3 linked regions of the Homo sapiens genome follow. The protein of the gene in region 3 purifies or fractionates together with the protein of the main gene of each other region. This does not show direct contact. Each region holds a gene or a part of one and is shown on either strand. Other genes may lie near its edges.

Evidence for each region.
Region 1: the proteins of CCSER1 (region 3) and SMYD2 purify together in Homo sapiens (affinity purification with mass spectrometry; 2 studies listed by BioGRID and IntAct, with this or other methods). This does not show direct contact.
Region 2: the proteins of CCSER1 (region 3) and NDE1 purify together in Homo sapiens (affinity purification with mass spectrometry; 2 studies listed by BioGRID and IntAct, with this or other methods). This does not show direct contact.

The regions. Positions count from the first base shown.
Region 1 is NC_000001.11:214,326,159-214,333,185, reverse strand, and holds part of SMYD2 (N-lysine methyltransferase SMYD2), read right to left. Parts: intron 5,565-7,027; coding exon 5,462-5,564; intron 3,019-5,461; coding exon 2,908-3,018; intron 2,237-2,907; coding exon 2,116-2,236; intron 1,169-2,115; coding exon 994-1,168; intron 1-993. UniProt on the Homo sapiens protein: Protein-lysine N-methyltransferase that methylates both histones and non-histone proteins, including p53/TP53 and RB1. Specifically trimethylates histone H3 'Lys-4' (H3K4me3) in vivo. The activity requires interaction with HSP90alpha.
Region 2 is NC_000016.10:15,667,245-15,674,271, reverse strand, and holds part of NDE1 (nuclear distribution protein nudE homolog 1), read right to left. Parts: intron 6,987-7,027; coding exon 6,833-6,986; intron 1,864-6,832; exon of another isoform or gene 1,501-1,863; intron 1-1,500. UniProt on the Homo sapiens protein: Required for centrosome duplication and formation and function of the mitotic spindle. Essential for the development of the cerebral cortex.
Region 3 is NC_000004.12:90,122,941-90,130,406, reverse strand, and holds the start of CCSER1 (serine-rich coiled-coil domain-containing protein 1), read right to left. Parts: upstream 3,014-7,466; 5' UTR 2,576-3,013; intron 2,082-2,575; exon of another isoform or gene 1,922-2,081; intron 1,870-1,921; exon of another isoform or gene 1,745-1,869; intron 1-1,744.

The DNA of each region.
Region 1 (7,027 bases), on a different chromosome or scaffold from region 3:
GTTTATCCCCAATTTAACAAATTCTGTTTCCAAGAGCAGATTTTAAGAGCTGGCTTCCTTTGGGCTCCCCCTGCTGGCTAATCAGGGCACAGTGGGGTAAGTAGAGGGTGGAGTGGGCAGTGGACATTCAGACCAGACACAACCTTCACAGACCCTAATCTCGGAAGTGGAAGGAGACTGAGGGCTTCTCAAACTCCTGAGAAACACCTGGGATGCTTCCAGAACACAGATTTCTGGGTCTAATGCCCAGCGACCCTGATTCACTTGGCCCACTTGGTGTTGGACGTACCCTGTAAATGCATAATATCAGTGCCTTTAAAAAGAGCTCCAGTGATCCCATCTAGGCCACCTCAGCCCTGAAGTGTCTAGTCCGAGTCAGAGGACAAAGCCACAACTTCCGTCTGTCACCCACTTTTAGGTTTAGTAACCCTCTCAGGCAGGAAATCTCTCCAGGGCTAATATTCATTATTACTACAAATTAAAAAGCAATTTTTGTTTCTTTTTTCCAAACCTGGGGTGGGGAGATTAGATAACCACGGTCAACCCACTGGTCCCAGAGCTTCCCCATTTGCAAACTGGGGCTGTAATTTGAAAAAGCAAAAGAAGGGGATGGTGTGAGTAATGATGAAAACCAGGGTTTCTGAGACCACCACTTAGTAATTAAACTTGGAAGCAGTGGGTGGGAAAAGAAGCAAACTAGTGGCTTCTCAAAACTAGCCTGAGTTAACTACTATGGATATGGCCCTGGATGGACCTGGGAGGGATCTTGCCCCAGTATCCGCTGCATAACCTCAACCTGTCTCCTTGGGATGATGGTGAGAACAGGCCTGACTCGGGAGCAGTGCCCTGCACCAGCACCTCCAGATGTGGGTGCAGAGAAGAGGCAGCTGCGCTAGGCAAGTCTCAGCAATGGGCAGGAAGATGACACTATCGTATACATTCTAAACAACCAAATTCCACTCCGTGGATGATTAGAACAGCCTCTGCAATCACCTGTAGGGCTTAATGATTTTCTGTCCATATTGCAGGGCTCCTTCCCAGTCCTGCATGTACAAGCAGACACCCATGGCCTGGTACATCATGTGCAACATGTACACGTTACTGTCCTCAAACACAGAGCTCATCTTCTCCTGGCTGAGCTCGCAGATCTCCAGCAGCTCACTAGGGGGTGCTGTGGAGTCAAGGAAAGGGCCACCGGGCCCAAGCTGCCTGGAGGCTTCCCCAGGCTGGGTTCAAGGAGTTATTTCGTCCACTCCACTCTCACCCTTACCCCATGAAAAAGTAACTTACAGAAAGCCAAGCAAAAGTGAAAGGAATTACATTTCTCCAGAAAAAACAAATGAAGAAAACCTGAAGGTCGGAACCGCTCAACTCAAGAATTTTAGCCGCAGGGTCCAGACCCCTAGTTCTGATGTAAACAATGTTGATTAAAATCACGATTCTAATCAAATTCAAATCCTCACCCAAGTTGGAACCCTGAGCACGACTCCCACTGTGGCAAAGTTCTTTCTTATGCTGAGAAACAATGTGCCTTTCTCTCATTTCCTCTCACTGGTTTTAAATTCTACCCTTTAGAGTACAAATCGAATCCCTTTTCAACTCCCAAGAAAATGCTACAATACAATGGTTAAGAATATGGATTCTGATAGAGCTGGGACAAAATCCTAGATCCTATCACCATCAGCTGTGTCCTTTGGGCAAATTACTTAATATCTATCAGGCTGTTTCCTCATCTGCTGCATGGGAATGAGCAGAGTCCCTGCTCAGAGTGTGCCAGTGAGGAGAGCTGAAATAAGCAAGGCCCTTGGCACTGTGCCCTGCCCAAAGTAAAATACCCAAAGCACAAGGCCATCAAGGCTCTGTCCTTCATGGTCCTCCACCACATGGGGCTCCCAGCCAAACTAGCCAAAATAAGGGGAAATAAAATCATACAACTCCAACAGGATGGACACCACATTGTGGGTGGTCAGTACGCCTTTACACATTTACTAGGAGACATTCCTCCTTTGGTTTTCAGAATCTTAAATCCATCCTTCTCCTGCTCCCTCTTTCCAACTTCCCACCTTGCCTTGTTGGCGAGGGATAATAAGCTATCAGGGCAGTTGTAAAGGATATATTTATAGTGCTTGGCCCTCCGGAACTCTTCAATGACGTTGCGTGCATATCTGACCATGTCTCGGATGGCTTCTGCCTTTGGGGGATCGCTGAGCTTCCGGATTTCCACCTTGGCCTTATCCTGAAGGAAACGTCCACAAGGGCAAGGCGTTACCGCCCATGGAAACCACACTGATAGGGAAACCTCTCATATAATACACATTCCCACACAGCGGTCGACACTGGCCCATTCCAAGGTTACAAAAGAATGAAAGGAAATCAGGCAATGCATCTGAAGAAATTCAGTACTCCATTACCTTTTTACAGAAACAAAACAAAAAGATTAATTTTCTAGATACTCCTTATCTAAAATGTGTTGGCTATGGGCAGATATATGTGTTTACACATCTACGAATCAAGAGACTAGAATAAGGAAGGATGGCATTGACGGAACAATTTGGAAAATGCCAGGGAAACTTCCACATATTCTGGTGAACAGGTTGGAAAGCCTAGAGATTATACTCATGTGCTTTTCCCCCCTCCTCCTTTGAGCAGTTGTTTCTTTTCAAGAAAGAGCAGTTCGGCAGACCTTTCTCCTGTTTGTACAGTGTAATGGAAATGTTTTCTTTAGCTACTAGGAGCAGGTCTGAACAGAGACCTGGTCTAACTAGATTCCCTTTGGCTGTCTTTGTAAGGAGGGTTTAAAGGGTCAAAAAGATCCTAGAGGAGATCCGCCAAGTCAGACAAGCTCTTCAGCAGAGAGGTCCTGAGATCAGAGTGCAGTCAGCGCTCTTGCCCAATGAACAACCTTACCTTGTCCTTGGTGGTACACTCCTGGCACTCACAGGTAAAGAAATAAGAATCTCTTAACCGGTCATTTCTATCTTCCGTTGGGTACAGGAGATCAATATAGCTGGTAAAAACCTACGGGGTCCAAAAAGATAAAGCTTCAGTCTGCTACAGGTAAACTCAATCCTTGTCATTCCCGTGCCTTTGCAGTCACCTGCAGGGCCCATGCAGAGGATAAGGCGGGCTGCAGCGGAGGAATGCGCTGTTTACTTTAAGGCACGGAATTCCTGAACTGAGCAGCCACCTGACGTTGGCTTTCTCTGGAAGGTGTTCACTAATCCACAGCTGAACTGGGAGCTGAAGCCAAGGTGCAGGTTAGTGGAAAGAGTCTGTAGAATCAAGGAGTCCTTAAAACAGTGTCCTGGAGGGTTCAGAGGATCCCTGCCTCCCTCAGCTGCCTCTGCCTGGCCTTCATGTAGTTTCATGTTTCACCACCTGAGACGGCGCAAATGCTTCGTTGCCGTCATCACTGGATGCTGCGTGCAGGGGAGGGCATGAGCACGCACACACCACACACATGCAGCTAAGCTCCCCTTCTCCTCACATCAACTGGCAATGGAGCAAGAGGCTCCACTCAGTGGGCTGGGACCCACAGCTCTGGGTGGCCAGCGGAGGGTGAACACATCTTCTAGGACACCAGAATGCTGCGGCCTGGCCCAGCGGGCAGCTCCTGATCCTGCAGGGCAGCGAGCTTGGAAAGTCCTTACCTTTGGTTCATGGGGCTCCACCGTCCTTGCCTTTTCCTAATGGGGTCTGTAACTAAGGCTTGGAGCATATGGAGGAGACCAGCATTTAGATGTCCATTATCTACTCACTGGGACAGCACTGGCTACTCATCCCACACAATCAGGCAAATGTCTGACTGAACAGATGGATCTCATGAAGCCGCTAGCGTGCCAGTGACCACGGGCACCACCAGGCAGGCAGGGGAGGACACGCACAGGGCTGGGTGCTGCAGGGGCAGCTAAGCTCTCCCCAGCCCATGGGGAGGTACTGGACACGTTGCAGCTCACCCCGAAACCCTGGGGAATGGGGTTTCTCCTTCTCTGAAGGGTAAGTAATCCCCAAAGCACTGACTTCCCAAAAATGAGGTTACTGCGTTTCAGATCTGGGAGAACATAAGGGCAAAAGGAAACTGCAGCCACCCCTGCCCTGCCTCACACCACAAGAGCCTGCCAACAATCTCTGTAATGACTGACTCACAGTGCAACATGCGGAAGCTTCCAGAAGATGGCGACAAAGGCCACTCCAGTACCACTGCTCCCAGCCAGACTGAGCCAGCTTAGGTGACAACCTGCTCATCTCTGCAGTCAGCCCACAGGTGCACTGGAGCCTGGGTGACTGCATTCTGACTGGCTGCAATTATCTGTTTCAAGAAAGGCTTCAGAGCAGTCTCCATAAGACCTTTGGAAACTCAGACACCCCAGCCGAAAGGGGACACACCCTCATCGTAATGGATTTAGCTGAAGGTAGAAGGGCCAACCTGCCTGCATCTTGGGCTTCAGCTCCCAGTGCAGCTGTGGATTAGTGAGTGCCTTCCAGAGAAAGCAAAGCACTTGTCATTCAGCACGCTGACAGTTATATTTTACACTTCACACTTCAAATACCCAGGCATGCACCGTAAAATAGCATTACAAATTGCTAAACTGAAATTAACCCAAGTGTGATTACAAGTTCCTAAAAACTCATGTGTCTTGCTGGGAATTTACTTAAGAACACAGAGCATACTACAGCAATCCATCAGGCCAGCCCTTCCCAGGTGAGACGTCTCATGAGGTAGTCAGGAATCACACATGGGAAGGGAACAGGGAATCGCTGAGCAGGTGATGGGAAGACTGGTTCTCTCCACGTCCTGAAGCTGAGGAGGGAAACTAAGGTGCCCCTTGGCCACAGACTGCCTTGACTTCTCCTATTACTGCATATACCTGGACTTTTGATTTAGATTCCTAAAAAGTGAACTGCGACCTGAAGTTCAGATGTGGAACTGATAGAACACGAAATTCTGATGTGTCCCTTGGAGTGCCAGCTCTTTAGCTACTGCTGCGTTGCTTGCTTTCTTTTGCTTTGGACCTTTGAGGGATGGTGGGGAACAAGCAAGAATTCACCAAAAAAAATAAAATAAAATAAGGCTCAAGCTCAGTTGTTTGGCAATAGGGATACAGAGACTCTAAAGATAATCAAAAGTTTGACTGTGGTCATTTTGGTAGTAAATGTCTTCTTTCTCTGTAAATCTCTATAAAGCTTTGGGACAAATTTGACTCAAATTTATTACTTCCTGTTTTTCTTGACCAGAGATGGAAATGTATGTACCAAACAGAAGCCCCAAAGTGTGGGAATCTAAACTACAGGTTACAAATCTGATCACTGACTCCTGGAGAGCCTGAGGGCAGACTCAGCTAAACTGCTGGAGGCATTCACAACTCATACTGTCAAGTGACACTGCACAGATCTGTCCACATTGCCTTTTAAAGAGCAGTCTCAAGCCCCCTGCTGCAGCCACCCATAGCCATGAACTCACCTCCTCTCCCGGCTTGATTTCCTGTACAGCTCTGACTTCTGCCAGGGTCCCTTTGTAGGTCACAATGACATTGGGGCAACAGCTATGATTCATCAATGCAACACTGTCAGTCAGAAGAGAAAACCCAGTTTTTAAAATGAGATAGGCAGACTGTTTAGCTTCCTTCACTACTTACTTGCTAAGTCAGAGGAACTGAATCTTTGCAAGACATTTTTTAAAAATCTAATAGTTGGCTATCACATTCTAAGAGGTTGTTCTGCATGCACTGATAATCCTATCTACCATCTCACACTTTCACCATATTAAAAACTGAAATCCACAATTCAAGTACTATCTAAGCCAAAACCAAAAAACACACAACAGCAAAAACAACAAATGCCACAAATATTCCTCCCTGATAGAATGCAGCTCTCAGAACCCAATACCCACAGCTAATTGCTACTTCACTATACACTGTCAAACACAGGTGCGTTGTCGCTTTCAAGCAGCTTTTTGTATTAGTGGATTATTTCTCACGTTTTTTTCAGATGTTGAGAAATGCCAGCTTCCTAAGGGAGGAAGGGTGTGTGATCCCCTGAGAGACCCGGAGACACCCGTCTGAGTTTCTCTGCACCTCAATTTCCTCATCTGGAAAATTGGGACATTACTGCTCCTGCTGCTCACTGTCTGCTTTTCAGGGACAGCGAGAAGGAGAGAGAGAGATTCGCCTATGCGAGGTGCTTTGAGCTTTCTGATTATATGAAGGTCAAAGTTCTGAGAACAGAAATTTCTAAACTACAGGGAAAAAGTGCTTGATCTCTGAAAATGCTGCCTTTGAAATCACAATGCTGATATGATTTCAGCCCAAAGGGATTTTTTCCCCCAATTAAAACTGCCCAGAAACTGGGGCTCATGCTCCTACGGGCACTCACAGCCATGTGTGTCATTGCTCTGGTGGCCAATGTCACCTCCCTGACCCTCCAGAGACCACAGCCCCTCTCCTGCTTGCTCCGAGAATACAAAAAGGGAAAGGGGTTTCGAAGCCTGATGAGGATGAACTGCCCCAGGCTGGCTATGGCCTATGGCCAAGTGCACTCCCCCACCTCCTGGCTGCTAAAGGCCTAAGCAAAGTATGTGGTTAGCCTGGTGCCTGAGATAAACAGGTAGCAGCTTCCTGGTCTTGACCTCGGGGAGGGCCACCTCTGCACTGCACCAAGGCCCACTTGGCTTCCTGGAAAGTGATGCCCAAGGAATCAGGTCCTAGGAAATCAAATAAACAAATGCATCGAAGGGTAGTTGTATTAAAATAAAAGCACATTTCTAAAACCATCTTGCGGAAGTATTAAATAGCTGAAGGCAGACTCGGGTATCTCTTTAATGAAGGTGGGGGAAATGCACTAAGTCAAAGACCCTAAAACAATTCATGTTCTTGGTATCATAATTCTGTTGGCAACCACTGACAGGTGAGAATCCTCAAAGCACCTCACTCTTTTTTTTTTTTTTTTTTTGAGATGGAGTCTCGGTTTGTTGTCCAGGCTGGAGTGCAGTGGCGCGATCTCAGCTCACTGCAACCTCCACCTCCCGGGT
Region 2 (7,027 bases), on a different chromosome or scaffold from region 3:
CTCCATCTCAAAACAAACAAACAAAAACTAAGACAGAAGGGAGGGAGAAGATGGAGGAAGGGAAAGGGAGAGAAAAGGAGAGGAGAGAGACAGAGAGGGAGATCTTGTTAATTACCAAAGAAACAGTCCAGCGCACTTCTCAATGATTCCCTGTTGCCAGCTGCAGCAATAACATCCATTACATACTTATTCTGTGCTGGCCTCCAGGCTAAGTACACTTCCTATGTTGTCTCGTTTAATTCCACTTCAGAGACATGAACACTGAGACTCAATTACTTAACTAGCCCAGAATCAACCAGTAGCAAATGACTGGGCCAAGACCAAACCCCAGCCTCCTGAGCAGGTGTCCTTAAGCAATTATGCTAACCAGCCCTAAACCATCTCAATCCAGATCACCTGCCCGTTCCCGTGCTCTCTCGATTCTATTCCTGCTCTGCTTCCAAATTACTTTCCTTCACCAAACACCCAGAGCCAGGTGCGGTGCCTCATGCCGCAATCCCAGCACCTCAGGTGGCAGAGGCATATTAGCCTAGGCAACATAGGAAGACTCCATCTCTACAGAAAATTTAAGAACAGCCAGGCGTGGTGGCATGCACCTGCAGTCCTAGCTATGGGGGAGGCTGAGGTGGGAGGACTGCTTGAGGCCAGGAGGTTGAGGCTCCAGTAAACTATGATCATGCCACTGCACTCTAGCCCAGGCCAACGCTTAAAAAAAAAAAAAAAATCACCAGCCTGGGGCAACATGGCGAAACCAAAATACAAAAATTAGCCCGGCATAGTGGTGCACGGCTGTAGTTCCAGCTACTTGGGAGGCCAAGGCGGGCAGATCACTTGAGGTCAGGAGTTTGAGAACAGCCTGGCCAACACGGTGAAACCCCCGTCTCTACCAAAAATACAAAAAATAGCTGGGTGTGGTGGCAAGTGCCTATGGTCCCAGCTACCCGGGAGGCAGGGGAATCGCTTGAGCCCGGGAGGCGGAGGTTGCAGTGAGCCAAGATTGTGCCCCTGCACTCCAGCTTGGGTGACAGAGACCCCATCTCAAAAAAAAATCAAAACCGAAAACACAAAACACCCATCCTAGATTCTACAAACATAAGAGAAAACACTTCCCACAAGAAAGGCGCAAGGTCTAATTTAAAAGTTAAAAAAGGCCAACTTCTCTTTACTCAATCAAGTAAACAAAGCCGTTGCTAGAAAGTCCGGATGCACCCAGGGTGATGTAATGGTGCCTAGGCCAGAGAGGCGTGGCGAGAGCCATTGTGCAAGAAGACTCCAAAGAAAGAACAAACAGATGATTTACAGCGTTGGAAGGATGAGGAGGGCGGACCACATCCCTGCTGCCGCCCGCAGCACCCTCCCCATTTCCTGGCTGTAAGCAGAGAAGTATCTGCACCCAGCAAGTAGAGGCAGACCAGGCCCTGTTCCCAGGCGTGGCTCTCATCGCCTCACACCCTTTATTTGGGAACATCTCCAAATAAAACAGGATCTTAAGTCATTAACCTAAATTCAAACGCAGGCTCCAGGAGGACGCAGCGAGTGGGCTCCACCGACTGCACTGGCGATTGAGAGATCTCCTCGGAACCTGTGGACATGAAAACCTGTTGCTGAAATGTTGTGCTGCCATTTGGGGCTAATTCGAATAAGCTGTCAGCTGATGGGGGCATCAATAGATGCTCTGTTTGGTCCCTTAAAGGCTTTTTCATTCAACCCGTGATGAATAAGCCAGTTGTTAAGAAGTCCGGCCCAGCTGAATATATTTCTCTTAGGTGACTGACAAATACTTGCTGGTGGCAGGGTCCTCGTTATTCCAAGGTACCCTGTTTCTTCACTGTGCTGTGTGCTCTGAGTCTCCTGCATCTGACATGTGGCTGCAGTACAGTGGCGCAATCTCAGCTCACTGCAACCTCCACCTCCTAGGTTCAAGCAATTCTCCTGCCTCAGCCCCCGAGTAGCTGGGACTACAGGTGTGCGCCACCATGCCCAGCTAATTTTTTTATTTTTAGTAGAGACGGGGTTTCACCATGTTAGCGAGGACAGTCTCAATCTCTTGACCTCATGATCCGCCCGCCTCGGTCTCCCAAAGTGCTGGCATTACAGGCATCAGCCACCACGCCAGGCCCAAGAGCTCAGTCTTGAAGCAGAGAATTACTGAGTAATTCTCTTGATATTTTACTCAGGATCCATGGAGGGCCTGTTATCCTCTCCAAACTGCAGTTCATACCACTAATCTTCCTCCTACCCAGCTTTTCAACCCAGAGTCCCCTTCAATTTAGGAACTATAATCAGCCAGGCGCAGTGGCTCACACCTGTAATCCCAGCACTTTGAGAGGCCGAGGCAGGCGGATCACTTGAGCTCAGGAGTCCCAGACTAGCATGGGCACATGAACCCGTCTCTACAAAAAATAACAAAAATTAGCCAGGCGTGGTGTGGCAGGTGCCTGTAATCTCAGCTACTTGGGAGGCTGAGGTGGGAGGATCACTTAAGCCTGGAAGTCAGAGGTTGCAGTGAGCTGAGATCACACCACTGCACTCCAGCCTGGGTGACAGGGGGAGACTCTGTCTCCAACAGCAAAAACAACAACAACAAAAAGAACGATAATCATTGCTCATTGTGTGTAGCAGGTGTTCAGCTGTTAACAAATGGGTGAAGTGGGCCAAGTACAGGGAGAGGCAGATGACACTAAGGTCTCCGTGTCACGGATATGGGGATTGGGGGAAACTCAACAATGTGTGTTCTAAACAACCACTACTCAGGTTTTTTATTTTTTAACTTTTGCTCTGTCACCCAGGATGGAGTGCAATGGTACAATCATAGCTCACTGCAGCCTCAACCTCCTGGGCTCAAGCAATGCTCCTGCCTCAGCCTCTTGAGTAGCTTAGACTACAGGTGTGCACTACCATGTCCAATGAATTTTTTATTTTTATTTTTTTGTAGAGACAGAGTCTCGCTATGTTGCCCAGGCTGGCCTTGAACTCCTGGTCTCAAGCAATTCTCCCTCCTCAGCCTCTCAAAGGGCTGGGATTACAAGTATGAACCACCATGCCTGGCCAGAAATCCATCTTTTTACAGGAAGCTTTACAAATTTTGATGGATGGGGGAATATATATAATAAAAGGCAAGTAAGTAGGGGAAATATTATTGGTAGAGCCTAGGTGGTGGTGGATACACAGGTATTCACTGGAAATTCTTTCAGCCTTATATGCTGGAAAACGTTCATGGGGAAATGCTGAACAAAAACCCCTGAAGGCGATCAAACAACACCTATGGGGCAGATGGATCTGCAGACGGCCAGCTGCACTCTGTGGTCTCCAACAGAAAGCTTCAGCTTCAATGACCACCTTCAACGTGTCTGGGACCTCTCCTCCGCCCTGCCCCAAACCCCCAATCCATTTGTTGGTCCCACACCCTTTCCTATACATTAGTAAAGCTGGGCTTGCCAAGGTCCACCCGACACCCATTCTTGTCCACGTCTGTGATGGGTACAGATCAACTCTCCTTCAGCCCCATCTCCCCAAGCACCAAGTGTCAGCAACACATACACCTACAAACACCCTCCACACAGCCTCCCTCAACCCATGCAGTCCTTTCTTTTTCTTTCTTTTTTTTTTTTTTTGAGACAGAGTTTCGCTCTTGTTGCCCAAGCTAGAGTGCAATGGTGCAATCTCGGCTCACTGCAACCTCCGCCTCCCGGGTTCAAGTGATTCTCCTGCCTCAGCCTCCCAAGTAGCTGGGATTACAGGCACATACAACAACACCCAGCTAATTTTGTAGTTTTAGTAGAGACAGGGTTTTGTCATGTTGGTGAGGCTGGTCTCAAACTCCCAACCTCAGGTGATCTGCCCACCTCGGCCTCCTGAAGTGCTGGGATAACAGGCATGAGCCACCGCACCCAGCCAGTCCTTTTTCTCTTGAAAGGCCCCCACATCAGAGTTCTGTGACTGAGCTTCACGTCCCCAACTGCTTCATGGCATTAGGTTTGTCTTCCCAAAGAAGGCAACCAGCACTTCCCCTTTCACCGTCCATCATACCTAGCCCTGGGCACACACAGTTTTGACTCTTCCATGAAGCAGCTCATCAAAATGTACATTGGGAGTTTAATGAGAAAAAGAAAACCACACAGACATGCCAGGGCCCCACCCAGACTTACTGAGAAATGGAATCTCAGAGCAAGGCGGGGAGATGGGGATGGGGAGAGAGGGTTCAGGCCTGTCGGATGTTTATGAAGCTGGCCTAGTGATGCTGGCTGGCAGCTAAGGCTGAGAGCCAGTCTCTGGGGCACGGTGTTGACTTAGTGATCCCTTGCTGAGCCCTACAGCATGTACAGAAGGGATGGTTTTTACCTTGCAGAGCACTGGGTCTCCAGATACCTGGCTATGTCTAGAGGTGCTTTTGGTTTTCACCACCTTGGAGGTGCGGGGAATGCTACTGGCATCTAGAGGGTGGAGGCCAGGGATGCTGCCAAACATCCCACAGTGTGGTCAGGCGGGGTGACTCATGCTTGTAATCCCAGCACTTTGGGAGGCTGAGGCGGGCGGATCACCTGAGCTCAGGAGTTCGAGACCAGCCTGGCCAACATGGTGAAACCTCGTCCTTGCTAAAAATACAAAAATTAGCCGGGCGTGGTGGCTCACACCTGTAATCCCAGCACTTTGGGAGGCTAAGGCGGGTAGATCACACTGTCAAGAGATCAAGACCATCCTGGAAAACATGGTGAAACCCCATCTCTACTAAAAATACAAAAATTAGCCAGGCATGGCGGTGTGTGCCTGTAATCTCAGCTACTCAGGAGGCTGAGGCAGGAGAATCACTTGAACCCAGGAGGTGGAGGTTGCAGTGAGCCGGGATTACGCCACTGCACTCCAGCCTGGCAACAGAGTGAGACTGCGTCTCAAAAAAAAAAAAAAAAAAAATTAGCCAGGCGTGGTGGAGGGTGCCTGTAATCCCAGCTACTCAAGAGGCTGAGGCGGGACAATCACTTGAACCTGGGAGGCGGAGGTTGCAGTGAGGTGAGATTGTGCCACTGCACTCCAGCCTGGGCAACAGAGCAAGACTCCATCTCAAAAAAAAAACAGGCTGGGCACAGTGGCTCACGCCTGTATTCCCAGCACTTTGGGAGGCTGAGGCAGGCGGATCCTGAGGTCAGGAGATCAAGACCATCCTAGCTAACACGGTGAAACCCCGTTTCTACTAAAAATACAAAAAATTTAGCCAGGCGTGGTGGCAGGCGCCTGTAGTCCTAGCTACTCGGGAGGCTGAGGCAGGAGAATGGTGTGAACCTGGGAGGCGGAGCTTGCAGTGAGCCGAGATCGCGCTACTGCACTCCAGCCTGGGCAACAGAGCAAGACTCCATCTCAAAAATACAAAACAAACAAACAAAAAACCCACAAAGCAAACCTCAGTCCCTCCCAACGGAGGATGATCCGGGCTCCAATGTCAACAGCAGCCAGGTCGAGAAACCTGCTCTGAACTGGCAGAGTGCAACACACCTTTTGGTAATGAAGGAAATGGTCTGCAGCCCCTCTGTCCACTAAGGAAACTCACTGGCCACACGTGGCTCCTAAGCACTTGAAATGTGGCTACTGTGACTGAGGAATTAAGTTTTTATTTTAATTCATTAAATTTCAACAGCCAAATGTAGCTAAGGGCTACAATATTGGACCTGATGATATTACTCTAGCAACACCTCCATACCCTAAAAATGTCTCCCTGGCCAGGTGGTGGCTCATGCCTATAATCCCAGCAATTTGGGAGGCCAAGGCAGGAGGACTGCTCGCGTCCAGGAGTTCAAGACCAGCCTGGGCAACACAGCGAAACCCTGTCTCTATAAAAAATACAAAAACTAACCAGGCATGGTGCCGCATGCCTGTAGTCTCAGCTACTCCCGAGGTTCAGGTGGAAGGACTTTGGTTTTTTTTGAGACGGAGTCTCGCTCTGTTGCCAGGCTGGAGTGCAGTGGCACAATCTCAGCTCACTACAGCCTCCAACCATCAAGTGATTCTCCTGCCTCAGCCTCCCAAGTAAGCTGGGACTATAGGCGTGTACCACCACGCCCAGCTAATATTTGTAATTTTAGTAGAGACAGGGTTTCATCATGTTGGCCAGGATGGTCTCAATCTCTTGACCTCGTGATCTGCCCACCTCAGCCTCCCAAAGTGCTGGGATTACAGGTATGCACCACCTCGCCCGGCCCAGGTGAGAGGACTGCTTAAACCTGAGACGTCCAGGGTGCAGTGAGCTGTAATCCAGCCACTGTACTCCAGTCTGGGCAACAGAGCAAGACCCTGTTTCAAAAAAAAAAAAAAGTCTCCCTGCCATGTGCCCTATAAAATCAGTGTACACAACCAAGAAAGTCCACGGGAACATGTGTGTGACTTGCTTCTCAAAGCTCCACCCATCATGGATCCCGAGGTCAGGAGTTCGAGACCAGCCTGGCCAACATAAAACCCCGTCTCTACTACAAATACAAAAAAAATTAGCCAGGCGTGGTAGCAGGCGCCTATAATCCCAGCTACTCAGGAGGCTGAGGCAGGAGAATTACTTGAACCTGGGAGGTGGAGGTTGCAGTGAGCCAAGATCGCGCCACTGCCCTCCAGCCTGGGCAACAAGAGTGAAACTCCATCTCAAAAAAAAAAAAAAAACAAAACAAAAAGCACCACCCACTAGAGGCACAAAGAGTTCAAAGATCACGTCTGCCGCACAGGCCCTTCCAGAGATGAGCATGGGCCTGGGGTCTGGAGTCCCTCATTGCAGGGTTCCTTCTTCCAGCCAAGCATGCCATGCCTGTGTTGGACGCCTGTCTACACCTGAGCACACTTCCTCTCAGCCCCTCACCTTGATGGTTTCCAGCTCCATGCGAAGGCGGTTATTTTCGGACAGGAGGTCTCTGTTCCTGGTTTCAATTTGTTGCAGCTGCGTCTCCAATTCAGCTTCATATTCTCGGCTTCCCTCCTGGAATTCTCGGAGTTCCTCTTGCGTATTTTCTGCCCTACAGCAAAATTGTTAATCATCACGTAGTAATATTTTTGA
Region 3 (7,466 bases):
CCCACCCCCGAAGCATTCTCAAACAAAATCCAGTATGAAATGTTATTGTCATGTTCTGAACTCCTGTAGTACTCATTAGACATGTAATCTCTTATTGTTACGGGTTGTTAACTCTACGCTCAAGCATGAGCATCAGATTCCTCCCACATGGCAAGTAAGTTCCTGAAAGACAGGGAACAAGGAATCTCCCGTTCCTCCCCAATGCCTAGACAGTAGTACTTTGCAAACGTTAGGCCCTTTATTATGAGCATTATGATGAGTAATAAAATGCAATAAAGGGTTGAATAACTATTACTGTAAAAATATAACAAATTTTTCATTTTCTACTTTGTTTTATCTAAATTAACATTCTATGGTATAAATAATGTATCTTTAAAATAATAAACAGTTGCTGATTCTCTTAACTGTCAAAAAACAAAATACTCATAAATAGGACTTTTAATGATTGCAATAATACAGTTCATCAATTACATTTTTTAATTCCCTATTATATCTATGTTCAAATAGTTTGGGATAGTTGAGGTAATAACCCTCCGAATGGGGTTCTCCATCTGAGTTCTAACCTAATATTTAAAGCTGCACATGCTTCCGTGTTGAAAATGTATTTCAAAGTAATATAAATCTAACAAAATCAAAATATCAAATCCTTAACTCTGCTTTGTTTTTCAAAGAACAGGACTGTTTAGGAAAGCAATAAAACAATACAAACAACAGTTGGTTTGTTTTGATCAAAATAACTAATTAATTTAAATGAAGACAAATCACTCTGACAATAGGTTGACCAACTTCTCTTTTTTCTCTGTGAAACTATTGAAAGTGTGGTTACAACATGGAATTTCAATATTTGAAAAACATTGTCTTGGCAGGCTTTTAGAGACATTTCAGTTTGCAATATTAAGGATACTGTCCTACTACTAAACCCAGTCACAGTTCTATAAAAGTACAGGTTGCTACTTTTAAGAGAAAACATTCATTTTATAAGCACCGTGACAGGCACTGTCCCAAGGCATCTTTAAGTTTCAAGTTACGTATCTGGAACATGTACCTGTTATAAAGCAAACAGAAAGAGAAACCAAGACAAATTATATTATAGCCTAGATTACCAGTATTTTAGGTCTTCCCTTAATAACCAGTTTTGAAGGAACCAGTGATAACTGACCCCCACCTAGGTGTCCTCTTATCCGTTTTCCCTAAGGCTGTTAATAAAACCAGCTTTACTTTAAACGTGTACACATTATTTTTAATAGTCCTTGAGGGGCAGAGAAGGGAGGATGTGTGTTACATTTCAATAGGAAGGTATTCAACTGTAAAGATTTCAGAAATGAAAGCTGTTGAAACCAAGTAGGTATTTTCTGACTTGTAAGTCCTACTGACTGCCTGAAAAGGTAAGAGGGGTGGAGAAGAGGACATAAAAACATTAAAGGGCAAAGAATCTGTAACTTCTAAGAAGTATTTTTTTCTACCTGTAAAAATATGAGTTTTTTTTTTACTTCATTTCATATTCCATGTCCCACGAGAGGAAGGGGAAGCATAATTGCTTCTAATTCTGAGGCAGGGAGAGGAGAGAGAGAGAGAGAGAAAGAGAGCAGTTCAGGATACACTAAAAGGAAACCCCAAGAAATTTCACAACTCTTTGCCATAAATAGCCTTTCTTCTCACTCTGGATACCTCCTCCTTTACATCAGCAAGGCTCAGCCTCCACGCACGCAGAAGCACCATTCACAAATCCCTCCGTCACCCTTACCCCTTGCTGGCACCGTGTGTACGAGTCCCTGGGACACAAGCCAAAAGTCGAAGGGGCCAGGGGGCCACATGCGGTTTCAGCTTACGGCTGACTTTCTGCTCAGGTGAACCAACCCACTGGTTAGTCCAGAGCGCGCGCGCGCGCGCACACACACACACACACACACACGCACACAACCTGGGGCCCTTGACGCTCCACCACAAAGCAAGTGGTTCAATCTAAGTCGCTGCCGTTACTGCTGCCTCTGGGCAGGGTCTTGCTTCCAATCCAGGAAACTGGCGCCAGAGGACAAGCAGGCGGAGGCAAGAGGTGGTCCCGGCCCCGCACTGCGGTTCCTCCGGGAGCCCCTGGCTCCCCGCCCCCTCCTCCCCTTCCCCCTCTTCGCCGCCGTCCCCGCCTCAGCACCCGCAGCCCGGGGCGCCAGCGCTGACCGGTCGCCTCTACCTGCGGGACGCGAGTGGCGAGGAAGGGGAGCGACCCGAAGCCTGCGCCAACTCTCGCCGCCTTGGCCAGCGCTCCGCATCGCCCTGGAGCGGCCGCCGCGGCCGCAGGCAGCAAACCACGCAGCAGCGTGGAGGAAATGGCCACGCGGCGCACTGGGAGTCGCGGGCCGGTGGTGAGCGAGCCCGCCCGCCTCCTTCCCACCCCGCCCGCAAGGCCAGGTCTCTGCGCCGAGCACGCCGGGCCTGGGCGCGCGCTGCTCGCAGGCGGCCCCGACACGGCGCGGTCACCTGCCGAGCGGTCATCCCCGCGTCCGCCTGCGGCCGGCCCCGCAAAGCGGCGACGCGACGCGCGACCCGCTGAGCGCTGAGGCACCAGGGGCGTTACTACCTTGAGGGCTCCGTGCGCTTGTTAAGGCTCCTCCCGGGCACTCAGGGATTTATGTCTTCGGGGCACGGGGGTGTCCTTCCTGGTCCCCCTCCTCTGCCCTCCCTCCCCTTCTCGGCTGTTGGGCTCCTCTCCACTCCCAGTTGCACAGAGTCCAGCTGCGTTATTTAATAATCCTCCTGCTCCTCCTGCCTGCGCCAGCGGAGCTGCTCTGCCCGAGCCACCGCTTCCCAGTCAGTCATGTTGAGACAGAGAGAGAGAGAGAGGAGAGGCGGATTGGCAGTAGGTCGGCGACTATTTGTGGTGAGGGAGAGAAGAGCAGAGCAAGAGGAGGGCAGGGGAGGGACGTGGGGAGGCGCTTCCAAGTGTGTGAGTGCGCGGAGTGTGACTGTGTGGGGAGCGCGAGATCCACCTCCCCGGCAGGCCGCGCTCCGGGGCTGTGAGGAGGGCGGGCCCAAGCGCGGCCTTTATACAAGGAGGAGTGTGGTGGGCTGGGCGGGGCGGCTTGGAGGGCGGTGCCCGGCCCACTGCGTCCGCCGGATTCCACGCACGCATCCTCTGGCATCGACGCGCGCACACCCACTGCTGGCCCGCTGCTGAGTTTTCATTTTAGGGGAAGCAGTATCCCACCGTGCTGACCTGGCCTTTTCCCCCAGTCCATCCTAGTGCTTATGTGGAGTTCAAGTGCATAGGCAGGTCAAGACTAAAGAATAGGGGAAGTCTGAAGAGACGTGAAGTGACTGCGGGGATGCTGGAAATAAATGCACTGTATTTCTCCTCTCCAAGGTTCCGATGTTATCTTTTTTCTCTTCCTCCTGTAAGGGAAGGAATTACCAGATTCTTTCGCCGCTTTTCCTTCTCACCCACACAATTCACATCCTGACAAGTGTCTTCATTCCTCAGTAACAAGAAAAGAAACCTAGCTTCTTTCCTTTAAGCAGGTCACACCTCCCAGGAACCATTTGCAGCAATCAATTCTGTAAGATAATGCAAGCACTGCGACTGTGTCCGAGAGTGGAACTTGTGTTCCTACAAGGAAGGCCCTACACAATACAGGCATTACAAGAGAATCAGCTCAATTTGACATCATTTGACTGATGGTCCCCTGGAGAAAATTTGCCAGTTTAGAAATCGAAAAGACTTTTGATGCATGGTTCTGTTGCCTACATAATTTATTTTCCCCTGATCCTCTCTCCCCTTGCACTGCCTCATTTCCTTTCAGGTTTACACTAAGTACTGAACTCTTTCCCATCCATCCCCTTCTTTATCTCCACTCCAGTATATTTATGCCTTTAGCAGGCAATACAGCAAATGTAGTGCATTTAATTCTGTGTGTGTGTGTGTGTGTGTGTGCGCGCGCGCATCTGTTTTTAACCCATTCTGGTAGAATGTAGGACCATTTCTAGGTAGAAAATGCATCCCCAATATTAAGTTTGTACGCCTAACATCACCTCCCTTACCTTCTGCCCAGATTACAAGATGTTGTGATCAGGTGCACTGAGGTATTGAGAAAAACTTCCAGAAATCAAGTGATCTACAGTTTTTTCAAGGTGTGTTTGTGTGTGCGCGTGCGCGTGCGCACGCTCTGTGTAATCTAACTGGCTATGATCTAACTTCTGAAATGTGGTTATATTGGGAATAAAAGCAAGATGTATTTTTTAAATGAATCTGAGTGGTCAATGTATATTACAGCATGGGGACAACTCTGCTTTTGGGAGACAATTATAGGAAACATTTTTCATAAATTAGACAAAAGGAAGATAAGATTTAGGAGGCTACGGAGGAGGCGGCAAGGTTGACAATTCAGTTGTCCTATCTTCTTCCATGGCTTGTGACCATCGTACATCTTTAGGGTTTTGTCATATGCTGGCACCTTATATATTCTCCACATATTTTACCCTTTCACATTGATGTTCCTGTCTCGTAATTCTTCAATCTCTCATACAGAGTTTAGCAAACATTAAAAATGATTTAAGCATGTGATCAAGACCTAACAAAGAAGTGATATTAAGGAGTGTGATAAAAACAAAGTGATATTGGAAAGGACAGCAAGTTGGGACAGGTGCGTGAATATATCAATAATATAAGTATATAGGCCATTAAAGCTTCTTTGATTAAGCACTGGAAAAATGAATGGACTAACAAAGCATATTGGGATTGATAGTGTGCCCTATGGGACAGCTATTATTATTTCCTCAATTTTACAGACCAAGAAAGTTAAATTTTGAAAGTGTGTGTAGATAACCTAAGATCATACAAAGAATAAATAATGTCAATGGAACTCAATCTGTCTTATTCTACTGTCCATATCATGTCCCATTCAGAAGGCCTGGCTTACTTAAAAATCTCAGGACTTTCCTTAGAGCTTTTGTTTATGAAATAAGCTGACCTACAATCCTTTGGCATTTTTCTTCTACCTCCCTCCTTCTTTTTACAATGCAAGAGCGATTTATGAAATGTTAATGTTTTTTAGGGCTGGTCAACAATTTAAAAAGTCTTAACATACTTGAACTCATAAATGGAAAAAGAAAACTTTCCTACACAGTCCTTTCTGAAAGAAACCTGGTGTCATTGTAAAACGAAATTTTGTAGAGGAGATATTACTGAACATTTGCATCTAGTGAATACATAGGTGGTTTGAGAGCCGTAAACAGACATTTTAAAAGGTTATGTCCTCCTAAAGGGATGATACTCAATCATATTCAGCAAGTTTGTGGTGTTTTCAGTGTCCTGGTTCTCTATTTAATTGTCATTAATAACAATAATTTGATTATGACTGTATATTGCATACTTCAAAATTATATATTAGACCAGATATTTCAAGGGCATTTTTGGTAACCACAAATGATAGTAATTTTTACACTCTCAGTTCCATTCATAATTACTGAGAACCATGAAAAGCTGTCAATTGCCTTTATTCATTACGGTATTACAGGAAGCCAACATTTCTTGCTTAATTTTCTGACAATTTTTCTTTCCAAATAAAGGCTAGAATTTATATGCACTAGACCAGAAAGACATGTGAAACATATAACTTAAAACATACTCCTGAAAAGTTTATTCATTTTAATGATTTTGTATTTTTGTTGAAAAAAATCTGCACTAGAAACCCCATTTATAAATTATAATGAACCACATTTTAGAAGTTAAGTAAATGAATTATTCTCTTTTAAGATTGTTTAATGTTTCAAGTAGAATTCCCCACTTTGCAACACTTTCAATGATACAATTTTTGTTGTGATAGGAAAACAGAAAAAGTTAATGACTCTTTCCAATTTGTTCATTTTAATCTCATGTATGCTTGCTGCTGTTTGGTTCCCAAGTGCATTTAACTGGCAAGTTCAATGAAGATTTGGCATTGCACCATTTGATGAAAGCAGAAAAATTAGGTTGCCAATTACATATGTGCCCCTTATGTGCACTGAATTCCCACTGAAGTGATGAGCCAAATTAGAAATTCCTCAGTAGTCATACCTAAAAAGTAAAATTATAGCCCAGGGAAGGAAAGGGAGATTTTTTTCCCCAACCCTATTACTAGTCTAAGACATTTTAGAAAGAGAATTAACTTTAATACATTTGTAAAACAATGTTTGTAGGTGGAGTGTCATTAAACATTTTTAAATTGCATTTCTTTTGTTCTTTCCAAGCTATTTTATGTTTCTTTGATTTACTTTATACTCTATCGTGATTAGCCAATCATTATGAAAAAATATATGAAGACCATTTCCCCTAGTTGTTTTAGCCTAATGGAATACAAAAATTCAAGAAAATATTACGCATATGTTATTAGCATTCTGGATTTCTTTCATATTACTAAGAAGTAAATTATCCTTCTGTGATGACTTTTGTAATATGAAAGTGGCATCATTAGTACCTTAGAGCGACAGGACTAGTTAATTGACATCAAGGCTAAAACTGGCACTTAGTTCAAGACAAGGACTGATGAGAAAGTGTGAGATAGGAGATGTGCAGATGGACTCAGCTGCAGTTCTAGGTCCAGAGAGCACAGAAAAACTCAATCTTAATGTAGAAAACTCTTAGCTGGGCAAGTTTCCAGGTAGACAAGGCACAGTAGACAAGACTTTAAATAAAATTATTCTTCAGATATCTGATAGTGGTGACTATACTTGGTAAATTGTCTTTTTGCTGTGGAAATTCTGCCCAGTGGCAGGACAGCAAGATCTATTCATGTGGAAATCTAGGCAGAAGCTAAACTCAGGTGACTGGGTCAAAGCACTCACTGCATGAGCTGTCTTTGGTCTGGAAACTCCACAAGACACCTAGGATTCATGCTGTAGGACATACTTGGGAGCAAGACTATAAAGGTGAATGTAAGCCACTATCCTTGTATCTTGGCTATCATGTCCCGGATTTACCAAATGATGTAATTCTAAGCCCATTTTGTGGGCTAAGAGGATGGATAATAGAGGACATGGAGAGGCATCTCTTACCCAGCAACTGAAGTAATCTTGAATTTCCAGGAAGACTACCCAGTTTAGGGAGCTGAAAAAATTTCGAATAGTGTATAGATTTGTCAAAATAAAAATGATTTCCATTTTACATAACGCCATGAGCCCAGAATTTCACAATATAAGAGTAGCTTTATATAAATGACAAAAACTAGGAAATGCATTTTTCACATTTAAGTGGTGAAATGTAGTGAAAGGAGGCAAGAGCTAACATTAATGTTCTCTGAATTTAAGCCTCTCTGTTTATTAAGGGAGGAAAACTGAGTTAAAATAATGTTTATTAACATAAAACAAAAAATTTTGTAAACAGATTCACCATTAGAAACTTTTATATCATTTTCACATCTTTGTTTCTCTTTATTTTTTTAATTAATTAATTGTTTTTTTGGAAACAGAGTCTCACCATGTTGCCCAGGCTGGTCTCG